Regions from separate parts of the Homo sapiens genome. Here all the other regions are linked to region 1. The links come from fine-mapping of genetic effects on gene expression. A gene starts in region 1. Each other region holds a variant in brackets. All regions are shown on one strand. Distances are from middle to middle.

Region 1 (5,199 bases):
TTACAGGCGTGAGTCACCGCGTTCGGCCTATTTCATGTTATTCAGCTTATTTATATTATTCATTTTGCATCCAGCCAATATTAACTGAGTGCTGATTATACATCAGGCACTGTGCTAGGTCCTAGGAACACCACAGTGAAGAAAACAAATAACACCTCTACCCTCAGGGAGGGTATGGTTTTAGTGGGTGGGTGGGCTGTGTGTAGAAGGGAGACAAAGAACACTCTAGGCATAGAAAACCATAGGTGCAAAGTCCCTGAGGCTTTTGCGCTTTATCCTCTCAACAACCCAGTACGAATCCTTACCCCCATTTTTACAGAGTTTAAGTAAGCTACACCCATGGTAAACAGTGAGGTTAAGATTTAAGGAGGCGGGCGGATCACCTGAGGTTAGAAGTTCGAGACCAGCCTGACCAACACAGAGAAACCCTGTCTCTACTAAAAATACCAAAAAATTAGCCAGGCACAGTGGTAGGCGCCTGTAATCCCAGCTACTCAGGAGGCAGAGGCAGGAGAATCACTTGAACCCAGGAGGCAGAGGTTGCAGTGAGCCAAGATCATGCCATTGCATTCCAGCCTGGGCAACAAGAGCGAAACTCTGCCTCAAATTAAAAAAAAAAAAAATTATAACTGAGGACAGGGAGGAGAGGAACCTGGCCCAGGTTGTGGGGGAGGGTGGAGGTCAAGGGGCTGGTCTGGCTCTCCCAGGGTCTGGAGGTCCAGGTGGGGAGACTCTAGATAGATCCTGAGAGTGGTGGAGAACGAAGGAGCTATAGCCTGCACGTGGGTCTGAACCTAGACTTGACTAAATGTGGAAAAGGCAATCCTAGAAAGGTAAATACAAGGCAGGTAAGACAAGCAGAAATGGTGGAGTTTTTTCTTGGGAAGTCACTCTAGGCCAGGACTCAGAAAACCTGAGAAATCATGAATCAATTGCATAAAATTTCTGGGCTGAACCCTTGCACCTAGGGTCAAGTGATGGCAGAGGCGTGACAGGCCTGAGCACCCAGGAGAAACAATAGGGAAATCCATGGGAGGGGAGCCAGACCTACCCACCTCCCACACCCTGGCCCACGCCCAGTGCCGGCTGACACAGAACATGCTTCCCTGCCAGCCCGACTTCACACTTGCTTTTCCTTGGATGTTCCAACTCTTGGTCTTCCTGCAAGACCCCTTGCACATCATGGGTCTTAGGGTTTGGCAGACATGGGTCCTGCCTGTCAGGGTCAAGGGTTGTTGCCTCCAAAAGAGTTACTGAGTACAATGAGAAGAACTCCCTTGCTATAGTAAGGGCTCAACAAATATCATCACTCTCATATAGCTCATGGCCCTGAGAATGATAGTCATCTGTCTCTCTCAAAGGTCTACATCCACACCATTTCCTGGCAAGGAGGATGTGCTCTAGAAGGTTCTGAAAAGCAAATGAAGTGGTGGGCACAGAGTTTCCATTTCAGTTTTGGAGAATGAAAGAGGTCAGGAGATGGATGGTGGTGATGGTTGCACAACCACATGAGCATACCTAATGCCACTGAACCGTACAGTTAAAAATGGCTAAAGTGGAAAATGTATGTTATGTATTTGTTTTTTTTTTTTAACCCCGATTTAAAAATAAGCAAATGGAATGTTGGGAGTGACTCAGATGTCATGGGGCTTCCAGGCTGTCCTGTCTTCGCTTTAACCCACAGATTGTGTCCACGCCACAGTCTCTCCCTAGGCACATCCCCAGCCCTCTGGGAATGTGAAACCTTGTAGGGAGCAGGCCAGGAGACCAGAGGAATGAAATACAAGCACACTCCTGAGCCTGGAGTTCAAATTGGAGCTCATATTCCCCAAGCTGCCTCAGTGGCCTTACCTGTGGCATGGTGGCCCTGGCCGCCCCTCCCCTTCCTTGTCAGCAGCGGCACCCTTGGTTCTGACCACACTGGACCTGCCATTGCTCGTGCCATCACCCTCTGACCTGTGTGCATGCTGTCCTACACCAGGCTGCCCTCACCTGGCCATACAGCTCGTCCTCGGGGCTGGGCTGTGTCTTGTGGTGCTTGGCGTTCATGCAGACATTGAGCAGGTCCGTCCTGGCCCGCGCACTCCTGGGCTGGGCACTCCCCGCAGCAGTCACCAAAGCCAGAAGCAGCAGCTGCATCATCTGCCAGGCCATGTCCATCTATTCCTGCCAGAGAGCCACAGTCAGAGGTAGACAAGGCCTGAGACAGGGGCAACAGCCATGTGATTGTGTACTCTCTCCCTCCCAGGCCCAGATCTCTGCTGTCCCCACCCTGCATCCCCTACAGGGCAGCTGAGCCAAGAAATGCGCTGCGTGTAGAGGTGAGAGGGAGCCCTTCCCCTACCTGGAGGCAGGACCTCCACCAACAGCGCTGTAGGTCCAGGCTCTGACACCAGCTTGCTCTGTGACCTTGTAGGGAGCCACCGCCCTTGTGGACTTCCCCTCTTGGATTTCTCCAGTGTTTTATGCAATTCTTTTCAAATTTGCACAAGGAGGAACCACAGGTGGTGGCCTGCTGATGCAGGAGTGAGACTCTAGACAGCCTCAGGCTTCTGCTTCCTCAGCCTGTCCTCCTACCCCATGGCAGCTGAGGTTTAGATGCCCAGGGAAGCTGAGATGGGGACAGCAAGGGCCATGGAGCTGTCAGCTATTGTTCATGGTCCCGGAGCAGATGCTGCGGGAGGCAAGGAGGTGGGGGCAATCACACCTCACCCTTCACCCCTTCTGGGTCTTGGGAAATTACCTAGGCAGAGGCAGGCTCAGAGGTTGGGGGAGGCCAACAGGTCAGCGGCAAACGGAGGAGGGGGCTGAGCGAGAACAGTGGGCGCTATCTCGCCTCCCACCTCTCATCCCCACTTTTCCCTCTGTCCTGTTGCAGGGCCTTACCTCCATTCTCAGCCCACCTGGGAAGGTGGAGTCTCTCCCACCTCCCCACCTACTTTATAACCCCATCCTGCCTGCTTGGTTAGACCCTCTGTTCGGGAAGGTGCACAAGGCTTTGTCTAGGAGACAGCTCAATTGTCTTTCAATAAGGACCCAGTTAAATTATGGTACATCTACCCAGTGGAATTTAATGTGGTAACAAAGAAAGAGAAAGCTCCTGATGTACAAATATGGAAAAATCTTCAAGTGCATTGTTAAGTGGAAAAAGAAAGGTGCAGAAAAATGCTATGTAAAAAATAATAATAATAAATTCTCTGTAAAAAAGGAGTAAGAATGTCTGTGTTGACTGGGCGTGGTGGCTCACGCCTGTAATCCCAGCACTGTGGGAGGCCGAGGCAGGCGGATCACTTGAGGTCAGGAGTTCGACATCAGCCTGGTCAATATGATAAAACCCCATCTGTACTAAAAATACAAAAATTAGCTGGGTGTGGTGGCACATGCCTGTAATCCCAGCTACTCAGGAGGCTGAGACAGGAGAATCACTTGAACCCGGGAGGAGTTTGCAGTGAGCCAAGATCACGCCACTGCACTCCAGCCTGGATAACAGAACGTGACTCTGTCATTAAAAAAGAAAAGAATATCTGTGTTTGCAGGTGAAAATTCTGTGGCAAGGTATGAAAAGAAATTAATAACATGGTCACCTGGCAGTAGAGAACAGGATTAGGCTTGAGACTTTTCTCTGTAAACCTTTCCACATTGTTTTGATTTTTGGACCATGTGACTATAAATCTTATTTAAATACATATAGGTATGTGTGTATACATACATAAATATACCAAATATGAAGTGAAAATACTAAGACACAGAATGACCTCTCTGACTTGATAATATGTATGTAAATTTTGATAACACTAGAATGTATACAACAGTACCTTTAAGTTAAGGATACTACACATGTGCTTGCAAAAGTATGAACATGAAGCCACCAAGAGTTCTGGTCCCTGGACATACATCCAGTAAATTCGATGCAGTTACACCATATATATCCCATTTCTGTGCACAAATGGTAGCATACTGTTCTGTACTTTGCTTTTTTGGGTAGTTTCACTATAAATTTATTCTTTTGACAAAAAAACAAAAACCTCATGAACTCAAGTTATCCACAGTTGCACACTTGAGTATTACTGTACATCTGATAACATAACTAAAATTATTTCTTTATGCCTCGTAGGGTCTAAACTTAAAACTATTTCATTAGCCGATATAAAAAAGTTAGTGGGCTGGGTGTGGTGGCTTACACCTGTAATCCCAGCGTTTTGGGAGGTTGAGGTGGATGGATCACTTGATCCCAGGAGTTTGAGACCACTTGGGCAACATAGGAAAACTTCATCTGCACACAAAAATAGAAAAATTAGCCACGTATGGTGGTGCGAGCTTGTAGTTTCAGCCATTTGGGAGGGTGAGCTGGGAGGATTGCTTGAGCCCTGGAGGTCGAGGCTGCAGTGAGCTGTGATGGCACCACTGTACTGTCAGAGTGAGACCCTGTCTCAGCAAAAAAAGAAGAAGGAAAAGGAGAAGGAGAAGAAGAAGAAAGAAGAAGAAGAAGAAGAAGAGGAAGAAGAAGAAGAAGAAGAAGAAGAAGAAGAAGAAGAAGAAGAAGAAGGAGAAGAAGAAGAAGAAGAAATAAGGAAACAAAGAAAGTTAGGAAAGAGAACTTCATGTTTTCAAGTTAAAAGTGCCTAATGCTTGGTTTGTATTTCTCCAACACTCTTGGAGGCAGTAGAACTGCTACTAACCTGGGAAGACGACCGGCACTGCCCCTGTGTATTGCTTATGTAGTGTGAAGTGATGTTTTCCCATTATGATGTTGGGAACATTTCCAATACTGTCATCATTTACTCAGCTAGTAGAGAGCCTCTCCTGAGGCAGAGCCTGTGTTTTCAGTCTGACCTCAGTATCTGGTCCTGCTACAGGTGAGTCTGAGGTGACAAGACCAGTGTCTAGTTATGAAGCCCTTGCCTCCCCAGGGCTCCATTATGGATGAGTCCTGCACCATAGTCAGCAGCCCTCTGCCCTCCCTCCATTGCACCCACCTATGACTCTTCTCTTCTTTTCAATGCCCTCCCCCAACAACCTCTGCCTGTGACTTTGAATGTGTTGTGGGGGTCTTTGCAGAAGAATCGCCCACCTGAGTTTTGGCCAAATTCCTGACTCACAACATCTTGGAATATAATAAAATAGTTACTATTTCAAGCAACTATGTGTATTTGATTTTTAAACTTTTTGTTTTGAAATAATTTTAGATTTGCAGAAAAA
Region 2 (5,000 bases), 34 kb after region 1:
ATAACACAATTCACGATGGCCACTACTGCCAGTTTAGAGACTGGAAAGATGAAGTCATGTGATCCGCCCCGCCCTTTCCCCGCATCACGTGCTTGCGTGTACGGTTACGCCTTCCCATTGGTTGACAACGATCACGCGCTAGCGGGCGGGACCGGAAGCCGGGGTATTGACTGAGGCGGCCAAGCGGCTCCGGGACAGGGGGTACGGGGGGTGGGGGCGGGTGGTTGCCTGCGGGAGGCCGCCGCGGGTCATGTGACCGGAAGGGCTCCTCACGGACGCCGTCCCTCCTCGGCGCGGCCTGAGCGCCCGGCCCGACCCCGGCCATGGGGTGCTGCTACAGCAGCGAGAACGAGGACTCGGACCAGGTGCGGCCGCGGCAGGCGGGGCTCGGGAATGAGGGCTAAGACACTGGGGCATGGGGCCCAGAAAGAAACCTGCGGAGGACGGGCAGCCGGACTGCAGGGCTCACTGAATACGGAGGCCTGGAGGGGACAGATTACAGAGGAGACGCCAAGCCGGGCTCCTACCCCTGTTAAAGCCCCAGATTTCTACACAGTCCCCGCCTCGGGGTGTGCAGGCAGCCGCCTGTCCGGCTCGCTCCCACCACTTCCGTTTGCTCCTACCTTCAAAACTTTTCAGATTCAAGGATCCTCAGTCTAGGTCCCCGGGAAACACTCCCTTCCCCAGCTTCCTGTGTCTTCTGTGTATTAGTGGGCTTTGCGAATCCATTTTAGGGGTGGGTAAGCTGAGGCCCTGAGTTAGTCTGTCCTGAGATGAATCAGGAATTCGTGTATCGTCTTAGTCCCTGGGGTTGCAGAAGGAAGGTCGCTGCTAGTCTAGGGCCAGGGGACGACTCTGGAAGTTGGTGGCCTTTGAATTGGCCAATGAAGGATTTAATCGATACAGTGAGGACATCGGGACATGTGGGAAATTGTCTGGGAAGCAACAAAGAGGATTTAGCTTTGGCTAGATTGTGGGAAAAGAGAAATGGAGCGGGAAGTTCATTTGGTTCTGAGTTTGGCTTGCCTCAGTGCAGTCTGCCTGGGGCCTGAGGGTTCCTTTAGCTGGAGACATGCCTATTCTGAGAATTTGGCTGTAGATCTGATACCTTTGGAGAAAGGGTTAGGCTGGGGAGACCTGTACAGTTTTAAATTCTCCCTCTTCCTCTTAGTGCATTCTCACTTCTCCCCACACTCTAATCCCTGCCCTGCCTGGCCTGACATTCAAGGATGAAGTCTCAAGTTGCTGTCTACTCTCCTTTTTTGATCGTCTCTAAGCCCGGATTCTACATTTGAACATATAGTAGACCTGAGAGAGTAGAAAGGTTTCAGGTAGCTCACGGTCTAATGGGGAAGATGGTCACAAAAATAGATTATATCACTGGTACTTGGGAAGTAGTTCGTTCTTCAGTGAACGTATTTTGGATTAAGGGCTTAAGCCTAGGAAAATGTCGTTTGTATGGGAAGCAAGGGTGGCTTCTGGTTCTCAATTCTCCATACACCCAATGAACACATATTTCCTTTGCCCTGTGTTAGGCATGTGTTGTGCCTAATACCTCTCACTTCACTTCCACCTTTTTGAGAAAGAGACAACAATAACCCTGCCTACTGGGAGAGCTGTAGCCTAGTGGGAAATTGTCCCTTAAAGCATAATATGGACTCTTGCAGGGAATGAGTCAAGAAGGATTAATGCCGTATGAGAAAGGATACAAGCTTCTACTTGGAAGGGAGAGCTGGGCCTGCTGCTCTCCTGAATCTCTACCTTCTCCTTGGGGGGCTCTCATTTCTGTTCCTAACACCCAGAGAAGGTGCTTAATCACTGCTGGGTGATTTGAGGCCTCATGTAGCAAGGGCCATAACCATCCACCATCCCACAGTCCCTCTTTGAGTTCTTGGGCAGGCCCCTCTCCGACTCTCATCTCTGTCTCTTTATCATAATAAAAAATATACAACACGTTACAGTTTACAAAGGGCCTTCACAGTTATCTAATTTGACTCTTGC[C/T]AGACATCCGTCATATTAGTGTGGGTTATGTCTATTGAAAGGTGAGGAAGAAGTTCAGAGAAGCTAAGTGATTTGGCCAAGCTGAGAAGTGCTAGTGCCCAGGTGTTCTGACGCTAGGCCATGTACTTTATCCATGGGGCCAAGCTGTCTCAGCCATGCCCCTAGACCAGGTGGCCAGTCACGGGCAGGCTGCTATGTCTGTGCTAAGGTAGACAGTGAAACCCTGCCTCTTGGGTTACACTAATGCAGAGACAAACCTTGATGTGACAAACCTAACCCATGCTCCACTCGCACTTTGGGAGTGGGGTGATGTTTGTCTGCTCTGAAGTAGGTAGCATGGCCTCTTCTTTAAGTCTGGGTTTCAAGAAAATAACCTTGTTGTTCACTTGATCTTAGCTGAAGGCTGAGAAGTGATCAGCCAACCTTCTTCTTGAAGAACCCCTGATAGGGAAGAGACTACCCTGTCCTGCAGGAAGATCTGTCTGAAGTGGAGCTGGGAGGACAGACACATAGGAAGCTAACTTGGGCCTCATTATGGAGCCAGCTTTCCTTAGAAATACATAGTTTTATCTTTGGCAAACATTTTGTCTTTTTAGCTCTTTAATACTGAGCCTATGTATTTAGGGAGGAAGGGTGTCTGGGAGTTTATAGAGGTGATGGGGCAAAGCCCACAGCTTCTGTCTCTTGCTGTTGGGAACTGGATCAAATTGCCTGAGGACACTTGGGCAACCTAGCCTTGAGAAAGAAGAGTAAGGTGAAAAGGCTGGGCCTCCCTAAGCAGGGCAGGAGGAAGTAGCCCTCTACAAGGAGAGTTGTGGAGTTGTGGGCAGGGGAGCTGCGGCCTGCAGCAGGAAAGACTGAGGAACTGAGATAGGCCTGGAGGGGAGCATTGAGGAGTCTGGCACTGAAGGTTGGTGAGTCAGCATTAGCCAGGATGTCCCCCTGGGCCCATCCTTGGCTTTGTTCAGGGCACTCTTGCTCTTTATGGGTTGGATAGATACCCAGCAGGTCTGTTTTTCTCATTTACTGCTGATACAGCAAGCAAGGATTTGCAGCTGATGGTCTCAAGGCAGGGTCAAATCCAGAAATATTACAGTAGATAGAACAGGGGACTGAAAGAGGACAAGGAGGAAGACCAAACCAATGAGGAAGCTTGGTTTGGTCTTACATTAGTTCAGGGGTTGTGATTATCAGCACAGGCCAGCAGGAACAGGGCTGCTGAAAATTTACATGGGCTACTCAGGTGGTTTAGCAAGGGAGGGAACAGCGCCATTGTTGTTTGTTTTGAGATGGGGTCTTGCTCTCTTGCCCAGACTGGAGTACAGTGGCACAGTCCTAGCTCACTGCAGCCTCAAACCCTGGGTTCATACAGTCGTTGCACTTCAGCCTCCCAAGTAGGTGGGACTGCAGGGCTCACACTACCAAGTCCAGCTAATTTTTTTTTTTTGCAAAGACGAGGTCTTGCTTTGTTGCCCAGGCTGGTCTCAAACTCCTGGACTCAAGCAATCCTTCTGCCTTGGGCTCCCAAAGTGTTGGGATTACTGGTGTGAATCACCATACATGGCTACAGCTGTACTGCTCAGATCAGGATACACCATGTACACTCAGTTTGGTTCTGGGAGTCACGTACAAAAAGAGCACCAGAGCACAGGAGGGTGAACACCTTCGAAGGGACCTGCCTTCAAGAAGGGAACACACTTGTACTGTGTGACCCAGAGCTGGGCTGGGATTCCTGCCCTGACATAATTTGAGAAATGGCCATGGAGAGGTTGGGCTTGCTTTCTCTTGGGGCCTAGGGCTTTGTCTGGACTCGCCAGGGCTTCCATCTTGGAAGCGAACAGCTTTGCTGGGGAAGGCCTGGTCCTAGGGGATGAGGAAGGCTGTTCTTGGGCTCTTGACTTGCACTGATTTCCCCTTTAGATCCCAGTGCTTGCTATGTCTCAGCTCCACTGTCTTCCAGCCTCTAGTATCCTTTCTTTGCCAGGTCCTAGAATGTTTTTCAAGCTCCAGGGCTGTTGCTGACTACCTGCTTTGTGCCTCTGTCCATTTTTTCAGGGCCTCTAGGACTGCCTGGTTCCACTCTCATTTATCCTAGAACACCAACTCAGTTGAGCTCCCAAGGATAGGCAGGAACTGAGTCTTATCTGGCATTCCATAAAGCTGGGCACTTTAGATATTCCTTATAGAAACATTTTTGGTGTTTAAGGTCAGAGCTGGGCTAAGGGTAGCACCCGTGAAAGGCAGGATCTACGGGTCCTGGGGCTGACTTCTCTCCCATGACCACTTCTAGGACCGAGAGGAGCGGAAGCTGCTGCTGGACCCTAGCAGCCCCCCTACCAAAGCTCTCAATGGAGCCGAGCCCAACTACCACAGCCTGCCTTCCGCTCGCACTGATGAGCAGGCCCTGCTCTCTTCCATCCTTGCCAAGACAGCCAGGTAAGTGTCAGAGGACCAGGCCTGGGTCAGAGCTCCTCTATCCATATTAAAGGCTAGGATAGAAGGAGCCAGGCTCAGGACATGGGGGATGGGACAAGGTCACTGGGGAGAGGTGCCTCCATGTCCAGCCCTGCTCCAGTAGGCAGGAGGGAAACTGGTGTCAGATAGCCCTGGAGTTGGTACCTGGCACTGAGTCCTGTTTGTCCTTCTCGGAAGCACCTGTCATGTCATCTCTGTCTCCTCTCCCCATAGCAACATCATTGATGTGTCTGCTGCAGACTCACAGGGCATGGAGCAGCATGAGTACATGGACCGTGCCAGGCAGTACAGGTGAGCACCTGGCCAGCGTGGGTCCCTCAGGCTACTTGGGCTCCCACCCTCCATCACTGTTCCAGCTTTGGAGCCTGGCCCCTAGTCCAAGCTTCTCATTTGGTGCAGCCCTGGAGACTGACCACAGATCACTTGGGTGCTTCAGTAGTTATTCATGTCAGCCCTGTTTACCCTGTGACACTCTTGAGGGCGCTGAGGCCAAGGGAGATGGGCCTAGATTGAGTCTGTGATGA
Region 3 (5,199 bases), 26 kb before region 1:
AGACAGAGTAACAATCTGATCTCTCTTGCTTTTCCCCACAGCATAAATGAGGTCTAGGAAACTCCAAGACTACTGACTGTAGGGGGTATAGAAACATAGGTAAGAGCGGATAATTCCTATTCTCTCTTTTTTTTTCCCCGAGATGGAGTCTTACTCTGTTGCCCAGGCTGGAGTGCAGTGGTGTGATCTTGGCTCACTGCAACCTTTGCCTCCTGGGACCAAGTGATTCTCCTGCCTCAGCCTCCCGAGTAGCTGGGACTACAGGCATGCACCACCACACCCAGCTAAGTTTTGTATTTTTAGTAGAGACGGGGTTTCACCATGTTGGCCAGGCTGGTCTCAAACTCCTGAAATCATGATCTGCCCACCTCGGCCTCCCAAGGTGCTGGGTTGTACAGGCGTGAGCCACTGAGTCTGGCTGATAATTCCTATTCTCTAGGTACTCCCTGCTTCATGGGTGCAAGCTGCTGTGGCACCCATGGCAGCACCTGCCAAGGTCACCAGGACTTGGGTATGCAAGGACAGAAGAGGGAAAGAGGACGCTCTTCCTTCTCTCCCTCATGTACCCCTGGTATCTGCTAGAAAGAGATAGGAGACAGGGATGCCTGCTCCCCTCTTTCTAGATGGGTAGCCATTCATCTTCACTCTGTACCCCTTTTGAATGCATGCTGAACCCCTGGGACTCCTTTAAAAAGCACCTTTTTTTCCTTTCTTCTCCACTGTCTTCTCTTCACTAATAGGTAATTGTGTCTTTGTACTATAGGACACTCCCCTCAGATGCATCCTCCAAACTGGAAAGAGTTAATTTCCCAAACCTTCAGCTGGTTGGCTTAGGATTGGGCTCAGAGGAAGGGAACCCACAAGCATGACATGCTGGCAAAAGGGTAAAGTTTTTTTTACCAGTCGGGCTTTTGGTTTCCCTCTCCCTGTGCAAACTGGTAAAAGGCCTAGGGATTTTAAGCTGTCCTTACCCTCCCTTGTTTCGTTTTAACACATGTTTTCTAATAACCTGGTTTTTCTCCTCTTGCCTTCAGGCCATCAAACTCCAAATGGTCGTGCAACCGGAGCCTCGGAAGATGGCGCCTTCTGCCGGGAACCCTTAGATAGGCTTCTGAGGGAGCTCTGACTGCCGTTTCCCAAAACACCGCTCCCTGTTAGCAGGAAGCAGTTTAGATCGGTCTTCGTCCTCACCCCTATCCTTGTTCTAACAGTAGTTTGATGTACTTCTTGAGAGGGGGGAATGAGACAGCCAAGTGTAAAGGGGTCCCCAGAGAACCTCTGACAAACCCGCACACTGGGAGGAATGTGCACTGGGGTGGAGCCTCTGGAAGTTCGTGCTGAGGAGCCTGGCCCCTCCTCTTCCAGGGTGGAACCTGGGATTCAACCTGAGAGGTGGGAAGCGTGTACTAGCAGGACTCTCACTCTGCCGAGGGTCCCCGTTTCCCCGCTTTTTTTTTTTGCCCAATAAATTCCATTTTTCTCACCCTTCAAAGTGTCTGCAAGCCTAATATTTCATGGCCAGGTGACAAGGACCCTGTCTTTGGCTGAACTGAGGAGAAACTCCTACAACATTACCATCCAGCAATTCCTATTTTTTTTTTTTTTTTTTTTTGAGACAGGGTCTCACTCTATCAACCCAGGCTGGACTGCAGTGGCACAGTCATAGCCCACTGCAGCCTCTACCTCCTGAGCTAAAGAGATCCTCCCATCTCAGCTTCCTGCATAGCTAGGACTACAGGCGTGGACCACCACACTGGGCTAAATTTTTTGTATTTTTATGTAGAGACGGGGTTTCACCATGTTGCCCAAGCTGTTCTAGAATCCCTGGCTCAAGTGATCTACCTGCCTTGGCCTCCCAAAGTGCTGGAATTACAGGTATGAGCCACCATGCTTGGCTTCCAACCAATATTTTAAAGTTCATGATGGGAATGGAGTTTGTCTCAGATGATAGATTTTTATGGAGCCACATGCCAATTTCCTTAGAATACTTTCCCTCATGGATACAC[C/T]CCACAGAAACTCAGAATCATCCCCTCAATTCTTATCCCCCCTCATGCCCATTTACAATTAATCCCTGTTGTCACTTCCAGCCCCAGGCAACTACTAATCTACTTTCTGCCTCTATAAATTTGCCTTCCCTGCACATTTCATGTAAGTGAAATCATGCCACATGAAGCCTCTTAGGTCTGGCTTCTTTCACTTAACATAATGTTTTTGACGCTCATCCACGACATAGCATGTGTCATCACGTTTCATTGCTGCACAGTCTTCTATTGTATGGATTCACCACATTTTGTCTATCTACTCACCAGCTGCTAAAAATTTAGGTTATTGCCAGCTTGGGGCTATTATATATAATGATACATAATATGATATATCATATTTACATACATAAATGATACATCATATTTACATACATAAATATGATTATTATTAATATTCATATTTAAGTTTTGTTATGTTTGTTTTCGTTTCTCCTGAGTAGACACCTGGGAGTGGAATTTTGGGTTGTATGGCAGTTTTACATTTAACTTTTTGAGAAACTGCCACACTGTTTTCCGAAGGGCTGTACCATTTTACATCCCCACCAGCACTGTGTGAGGGTTCCCATTTCTCCACATCCTTGCCAATGCTTGTTATTGCCTATCATTATTATTATTGCCATTCTAGTAGGTATAAAACCGTCTATCACTATGGTTTTAGTTTCCATTTTTCTAATGATTAATAATGTTGAGCATCTTTTCGTGTAACTATTCATAATTTGTGTACCTTCTTTAATGACATATTTGTTCATTTCTTTTGCCCATTATTTGATTGGGTTGTCTGCCTTCTTGTTACTGAGTTGTAAGTGTTCTTTGTATTTTATGGATACAGATCCTTTATCAGATGTGTTTGCAAATATTTCCTTCCAGTCTGTTGCTTGTTTTTTAATTTTCTTAAGGGTGTCTTTTAAAGTGCAAGAGTTTTGAATTTTGTTAATATCCAATTATTAGCTTTTGCATTGATCAACTATGCTTTCGGTTCAAAAAAGAAATCAGTGGGCTGGCAGAGGTGTCTCACGCCTCTAATCCCAGCACTTTAGGAGGTCAAGGTGGGTGAATGAATCACTTGGGCGCAGCAGTTCAAGACCAGCTTGGGCAACATGGCAAAACCCCATCTCTACAAAAAAAATACAAAACATTTGCCCAGCATGGTGGCATGTGCCTGTAGTCCCAGCTACTTGGGAGGCTAAAGTTGAGGGATCAATTGAGCTCAGGAGGTCAAGACTGCAGTGAGCCATGACTGTGCCACTGCACTCCAGCCTGAGCAACAGAAAGAGACCCTGTCTCAAAAAATAAAAATAATAAATAGAAATAAATGAAGGGCGAAAAGGCATCAATTGGCCTTGTTTACAAGACTAGCCAGGGCGGTCATCAGTGGATTGCTCCACTTTTCAGGTTGATGTAGTTATTTGCATATGTATAGAGAGTTGGTCCTCCTTCTTACTAGGATCTAACCAAAAAATTAAATTTGTAACTATGACCATGCCAGAAACAGAAATCTACGAGAAAATAATGAAGTCTTTTTACTCATGATTAGGTCTGTTGCAAACCTTGTGATTCCCCTCTCCTTGCAAGTACATGATAGGATTATGTTTTCCTGGCTTTCTTGAATTTAGGCATGCTCATGACTTGATTTGGCCAATGAAATAAGTGATGGGTGGAAATTTGAAGAGCCTTATGGAATTTGCCAAGTTCCCTCTTCCTGTCTCATGGAAGATGGAGCCTCCATCAGCGTGGGTTCTTGAGTGAGAAGCAGAACCCCCTGGCTGCTAATGTAGTCCAGGAATGAGAAATAAACAGAATCCCCCTGATAACCCACATTCAGCATTGTAGCTTGAGCAAGAAATAAACATGACTTGTGGCCAGATGCAGTGACTCATGCCTGTAATCCCAGCATTTTGGGAGGATCACTCCAGCGCAGGAGTTTGAGAACAACCTGGGTAAAATAGTGAGACCCTGTCTCTACTATTACATATATAATACATGTTTTATATTATATGTATTAGCTGAATGTGGAGGCTCACACCTGTAGACCCAGCTACTCAGGAGGCTGAGGTAGGAGGATTGCTTGAGCCCAGTAGTTTGAGACCAGCCTGGACAACATTGCAAGATTTCCTCTCTACAAAAAATTGAAAAATTAGCCAGGTGTGGTGGCACATGCTTGTAGTCCCAAGTATTTGGGATGCTGAGGTGGGAGGATCACTTGAGCCCACGAGGCAGACGTTGCAGTGAGCTGAGATCATGCCACTCCATTCCAACCTGGGTGAGAGAGTGAGACCCTGTCTCAAAAAAAGAAAAATGCCTGGGCTTGGCTCTAAATTGGAGCTATAGTGAATAATAAAATCGAGAGCTACAAATGTCTCCTACCTTAGAAGAATACTTAAGTATCAGGCTAGTTCATAGCAAGCATCAGAGCTGGGAACTAGCCCAGTCTAACTGGCTTCAATCAATAAGAAATGGGAAACAAAACAGCCACATTCCCATTCATACCCAAATAATTCTCAAGATACATGTGTGGTGTCTGGTTTATTCAAAGTGGCTGTCAGAGACAAGACCATAGAAGAGGAACCAAATAGTTGGGAGCTGTGGGGCTAAACAGGGCAGGGATGTCCAAGTATCAGAAGGTAAAAGGAGGTCAGCTGAGCAGCCACAGCAGCATTAGGGCCAGGTTGAGCAGGAGAGGCCAGGCTGCCCAGGGCCCAGCCCCACTCAGAGCTGCAGCATAGAACCTTGCCACCTCCTCATTGGGGTTGCCCTGGGCCAGGTCGAACCACATCTGGATGCAGCGGCTGCTCCCTCGGTTGTAGTTGCTGACCCTGTAGGAGTGAGTCCAGATTTCACTGCACAGAGCAGTGGGTGTGAGAAAGTAGAGATGGAAAGGTAGTCAGGCAGCTGCCACCTGGCACTTGTTAGACCCTGTAGGGAAGAGGGAAGACCTTTAGCCACTGGGCCCCAAAGGGTCTCTGATTCTGCCAGCCCTACAACCCCAAAATGTCACACACCTGTTCCACACCCACACACCTTCACTTCCAAATCCCTCCTTTCCTGCCCACCCCAGCCCTCACCTGAGGTCCAGTTCCAGCCCTTGTGCCCATTGCTCTTGCAGGTGTAGGAGGTGCGACAATCTTCCCACCATTGCTCACAGTCCTCTTTGCACAGG
Region 4 (5,199 bases), 370 kb before region 1:
CCAGCCTGGGCAACAGAGTGAGACTCTGTCAAAAATAAAATAAAATAAAATAAAATCATAAGATACAAAGAGAAACAGGAAGATATGACCACACACGAGGGAAAAGCAGACAGCAGAAACTATCTGTGAGAGCATACAGATGTTGAACTTAGCAGACAAAAATTTGAAAGCAACTGCTATAAATATGTTTAAAGAACTAAAGAAACCTTGTTTAAAGAAGTAAAGCATGAGAACAACGTCTCAGTTATAGAATTCAACAAAAAGATAAAGTTATTTTAAAAAACCAACTAGAGGCCAGGCGTGGTGGCTCATGCCTGTAATCCCAGCACTTTGGGAGGCTGAGGCAGGCAGATCAAGAGGTCAGGAGAGAGAGAGACCATCCTGGCTAACCCGGTGAAACCTCATCTCTACTAAAAATACAAAAAAAAATTAGCTGGACATGGTGGCGGGCACCTGTAGTCCCAGCTACTCAGGAGGCTGAGGCAGGAGAATGGCGTGAACCCAGGAGGCGGAGCTTGTAGCTTGTAGTGAGCCGAGATTGTGCTACTGCACTCCAGCCTGGGTGACAGAGTGAGACTCTGTCTAAAAAAAAAAAAAAAAAAAAACAGCTAGAAATTCTGGAGGTGAAAAATATAATAGCTGAAATAAAAATTTCTCTAGAGGGATTGAACAGTATATTTGTGCTAGCAGAAGAAAAGGTAAGTGAACTTAAAAACAGGTCTATAGAGATCATCCAAATGGAAGAACAGAAAGGAAAAACAATGAAGAAAAATGAACATTGCCTCAAAGACTTGTATGTTTTATGGACACATAAAACATACCAACAAATGTATAATAGGAGTCCCAGAAGGAGAAAGAGAGAGAAAAGATCAGAAAAAATATTTGAAGAAATCAATACTAAAAAAAAGTCCAAATTTGATGAAAAACATTAATCTACACATCCAATAAGGTCAGAGAATTCTAAGTAGGATAAACACAAAGAGACTGTCAACTAAAAATACCATAGTCAAACTATTGAAAGGCAAAAAGAATGTCTTGAAAGCAACAAGAGCAAAATGACTCATCACATATGAGTGAACCAGATTAAGATAAGCAGCTGATTTCTCATCAGAAACAATGGAGAGTTTGGAGCCAAGATGGCTGACTAAACACAGCCAGGAGAAGATCTCCCAACCAAGAGACTGGGACATCAGGAAGAATGGCACACTCCAAGCAGATCTTCAGAGGGAAGGCTTTGAGAATGGATGGAAGTAGGACTCAGACACTGAGCTGAAGGGGGATGATGCTGGGAACCCTGTATGGGGCTGTTGTGCACTGGGACTCATTCCTGAGTGACTCCTGGAGAAGAGATGAATTGAACAGTTGAGGAGTGGCCCATTCTTGCCACAGACCTCCAGAATCCTAGCAGCAGGAGACCCCATGACCCCCATGGACACTTAAGCTGGCAGCAAGAGCTACTTAGAGAGGCAGTTAGGGCAGGACTCCAGCCTGTGTGGAGCCAACAGTGTTTGATGTGGGAACATTTGCAGTGGAGCATGGCCAGGGATTCTCATCCCCCAAGGCTCACCATGCTCCTTCAGGAGACTTTAGCCTTAGGGTGACTGTCAGAACTGGACAGAGCAGGGCAGTCTTGCCTGTGGGACAGGGCCAATTTTATCTGAGCACCCCTCTGTCTGCTGGCGTCGCCTGGGGACCCAGCCTGCCCATTCTCACTTGCAGCACAACTTTGGATGCCCAACTGCTATATCCAGGGAACCTCATCATAACTTCTTCATTGTCAGACCACACCTCGCTGTTGGAGAGCTCCAGCAGATGGGCCCCTGCCAATGCACATCAGTCCACACACAGTCTCCCTCCACCATTGACTCCCCCTGCCACTTTGCCAGCACACATTTGTCTACAGCCCCTGCTCCACCACTTTGCCAGCAGGCATGCATAGGTGGACCTCACCCCACTCCACTGTCAGTGAATGTGCGCATGCACCCCACCATGTCACCACTGCCAACACTAGTGCA[C/G]CCTACCACCCCTCCCTCCACTAACACATGGGCACCCTGCTGTACCACCACTGCTGGCACAAATGCACACACAGACACCAGCAATCCCACCCCTACCAGTGTCCCATCCCCACCATGCTGCACCCACTACTGGTGTAAGCACATGCAGGAACACTGCCACCCTGCTCCAGCTAATGCCCTGCCTCAGACAATGCACGTGTACCCCCACCACACTGCCACAGTTACTGGCACATGCAGGGGAGCATGGATCCCGCTGCCACTGCCCCAACAAAGTTCTTTAGCTGGCACCACTCATTGGAGTGTTGTGGCCAGTGGATCAGGAGCACTGTGGCCCCTTCAGTACAGCAGGTTCCTAACCTCAAGAGGCCAGAGAATAAAGCCAAGAGCCCAGTACCAGCCTCCCAGAGCATGCTTCCCAGGACTACTGAGCTGAGACTGGGCCTCCGAAAATCTTTCAGAAATGAAGCCAGTCAACTAAACCCACTTTATACCACAATCAAACCCCCAAGGGGATCAAAGAAGATAAAAACAAAAAATTCTATCCAAAGGACAGCAACTTCAAAGATTGAAGGAATATCAGCCCACATAAACGAGAAAGAACCAGTGCAAGAACTCTGGCAAGTCAAAAAGCCAAAATGTCCTCTTACCTCCAAATAATGGCACTACTTCCCCAGGAATGGTTCTTAATTAGGCTGAAATGACAGATACAGAATTCAGAACATGGATAGGAATGAAGATCATTGAGATTCAGGAGAAAGTCAGAACCCAATCCAAGGAATCTAAGGAATATAATAAAACAACACAGGAACTGAAAGATGAAATGGCCATTTGAAGAAAGAATCAAACTGATATGATTGAGCTGAAAACCTTACTTCAAGAATTTCATAATTACAAATATTGATAGCAGAATAAACCAAGCTGAGGAAAGAATCTCAGAGCTTGAAGGCCAGTCCTCCAATGTAACTCAGTCAGACAAAAGTGAAGAAATAAAAAAGAATGAACAAAATCTCTGAGAAAGATGGTATTATGTAAAGAGACCAAATCTATGACTCATTGGCATCCCTGAAAGAGAGGGAGAAAAAGCAAACAACTTGGAAAACATATCTGAAGATATCATTCTTGAAAATCTTTCCAACCTCGCTACAGAGGCCAACAGTCAAATTCAGGAAATGCAGAGAACCCCTGTGAGGTACTGTATAAGATGACCATCCCTAAGACACATAGTCATCAGATTCTCCAAAGTTGAAATGAAAGAAAAAATGTTTAAGGCAGCTAGAGAGAAAGGGCAGGTCATCAACAAAGGGAACCTCATCAGGCTAACAGTGAACCTGTCAGTAGAAACTCTACAAGCCAGAAGAGATTGGTGGCCTATATTCAGCATTCTTTTATATATTTATTTATTTTTTGAGATGGAGTCTTGCATTGTTGCCCAGGCTGGAGTGCAGTGGTGTAATCTCGGCTCACTGCAAGCTCTGCCTGCTGGGTTCACACCATTCTCCTGCCTCAGCCTCCCAAGTAGCTGGGACTACAGGCGCCTGCCACCACACCCGGCTAATTTTTTGTATTTTTAGTGGAGACGGATTTCACCATGCTAGCCAGGATGGTCTCGATCTCCTGACGTCATGATCTGCCCACCTCGGCCTCCCAAAGTGCTGGGATTACAGGCATGAGCCATCGTGCCCGGCCTATTCAGCATTCTTAAAGAAAAGAAATTCCAACCAAGAATTTCATATCCAGCTAATGTAGTTTGGATATTTGTCCCTGCCCAAATCTCATGTTGAATTGTAATCCCCAATGCTGTAAGTGGGGCCTGGTGGGAGGGGTTTTGGTCATGGGGGTGGATCCCTCACGGCTTGGTGGTGTCTTTGCAATAGTGAGTTCTTGCCAAGATCTGGCCATTTAAAAGTGGACCTCCCCCTACACTCTCACTTGTTCCTGCTTTCACCATGTGACCTGCCTGTTCCCCTTTCACCTTCCACCGTGATTGAATGCTCCTCAACAGTTCAACAGAGCCAAGCAGATACCAGCACCATCCTTTCTGTAAAACCTGCAGAACTATGAGCCAATGAAACCTCTTTTCTTTATAAGTGACCCAGTCTCAGGTATTTCTTTATAGCAATGCAAGAATGGCCTAATACAGAAAATTGTTACTGAGGAGTGAGGCCTTGCTATAAAGATACCTGAAAACATGGAAGCAGCTTTGGAAATGGGTAACAGGCAGAGGTTGGAAGAGTTTGGAGGGCTCAGAAAAAGAGAGGAAGACCAAGGGAAGTCCAGAACTTCTTAGAGACTGGTTAAATGATTGTGACCAAAATGCTGATAGTGAGACAGCCAGGTGGGAGGGAGTCCCTGGAGAAACTCCAACCAGCCTGCCCACTGAGGTGGAGCCTCAGGAAGTTCATGACCTTTGCAGCAGGGAGGAGCCTGGTGCCTCCTCTTCCTGTGTGGAACCTGGGATTCAATCACCCGGGCAGGAAGCACTCTAGTGGAGGGACTCTGGCCTAGTGAGAGTCCCTGTTTCCCCCTTTTCTTCCTTTTAACCCAGTAAAACCCTGCTTCACTCACCCTTCAAATCATCTACGAGCCTAAATTTTTGTGGCTGTGGGATGGACAAGGACCCCATCTTTCACTCAATTAAGGAAAAGTCTTACAACAATAGTAATATGGATGATGAAGTCCAGGCTTATGAGGTCTCAGATGGAAATGAGAAACGTATTGGGAACTGGAGCAAAGGTCATGTGTGTTATGCCTTAGCAAAAAACTTGTCTCCATTTTGTCCATGTCCTAAGGATCTGTGGAAGTTTAAACTAAAGAGTGATGATTTAGGGCAAGGGTATCCAATCTTTTGGCTTCCCTGGGCCACAGTGGAAGAAGAATTGTTCTTGGACCATACATAAAATACACTAACACTAACGATAGCTGATGAGCTAGAAAAAAAAAATCACAAAAAACTCACAATGTTTTAAGAAAGTTTATGAATTTGTATTGGGCTTCACTCAAAGTCATTCTGGGTCACATGCGGCCAGCAGGCTGCAGGTTGGACAAACTTGATTTAGGGTATTTGGCAGAAGAAATTTCTAAGCAGCAAAGTGTTCAAGATGTGGCCTGGCTGCTTTGAACAACCTACACTCAGATTTGAGAGAAAAGAAAAGACTTAAGTTTGGAGTTTATATTTAGACAGGAA

What was found.
Region 2: its variant is fine-mapped to the expression of FOLR3 in whole blood (INTERVAL, PIP 0.94).
Region 3: its variant is fine-mapped to the expression of FOLR3 in whole blood (INTERVAL, PIP above 0.99).
Region 4: its variant is fine-mapped to the expression of FOLR3 in whole blood (INTERVAL, PIP 0.95).

Annotation. Positions count from the first base shown.
Region 1 is chr11:72,132,914-72,138,112 of GRCh38, reverse strand. FOLR3 (folate receptor gamma) reads right to left here and starts at 2,388. Exons shown (of 5, transcript NM_000804.4): 1 at 2,345-2,388; 2 at 1,993-2,166. The coding sequence starts at 2,160.
Region 2 is chr11:72,098,548-72,103,547 of GRCh38, reverse strand. The region is part of intron 5 of LRTOMT (leucine rich transmembrane and O-methyltransferase domain containing); the gene reads right to left. It overlaps LAMTOR1 (late endosomal/lysosomal adaptor, MAPK and MTOR activator 1), which reads left to right and starts at 251. Exons shown (of 5, transcript NM_017907.3): 1 at 251-365; 2 at 4,292-4,437; 3 at 4,690-4,767. The coding sequence starts at 324. RefSeq lists a silencer at 96-365 and an enhancer at 466-545. The variant C/T (reference allele first, on the strand shown) is at 2,002.
Region 3 is chr11:72,159,215-72,164,413 of GRCh38, reverse strand. It overlaps FOLR1-AS1 (FOLR1 antisense RNA 1), which reads left to right. Exons shown (of 3, transcript NR_199595.1): 3 at 1,035-1,092. It also overlaps the pseudogene FOLR1P1. Among named protein-coding and RNA genes, the nearest start is that of FOLR3, 26 kb to the right of the region's middle. The variant C/T (reference allele first, on the strand shown) is at 2,007.
Region 4 is chr11:72,507,457-72,512,655 of GRCh38, reverse strand. No RefSeq gene overlaps it. Among named protein-coding and RNA genes, the nearest start is that of LINC01537, 61 kb to the left of the region's middle. The variant C/G (reference allele first, on the strand shown) is at 2,016.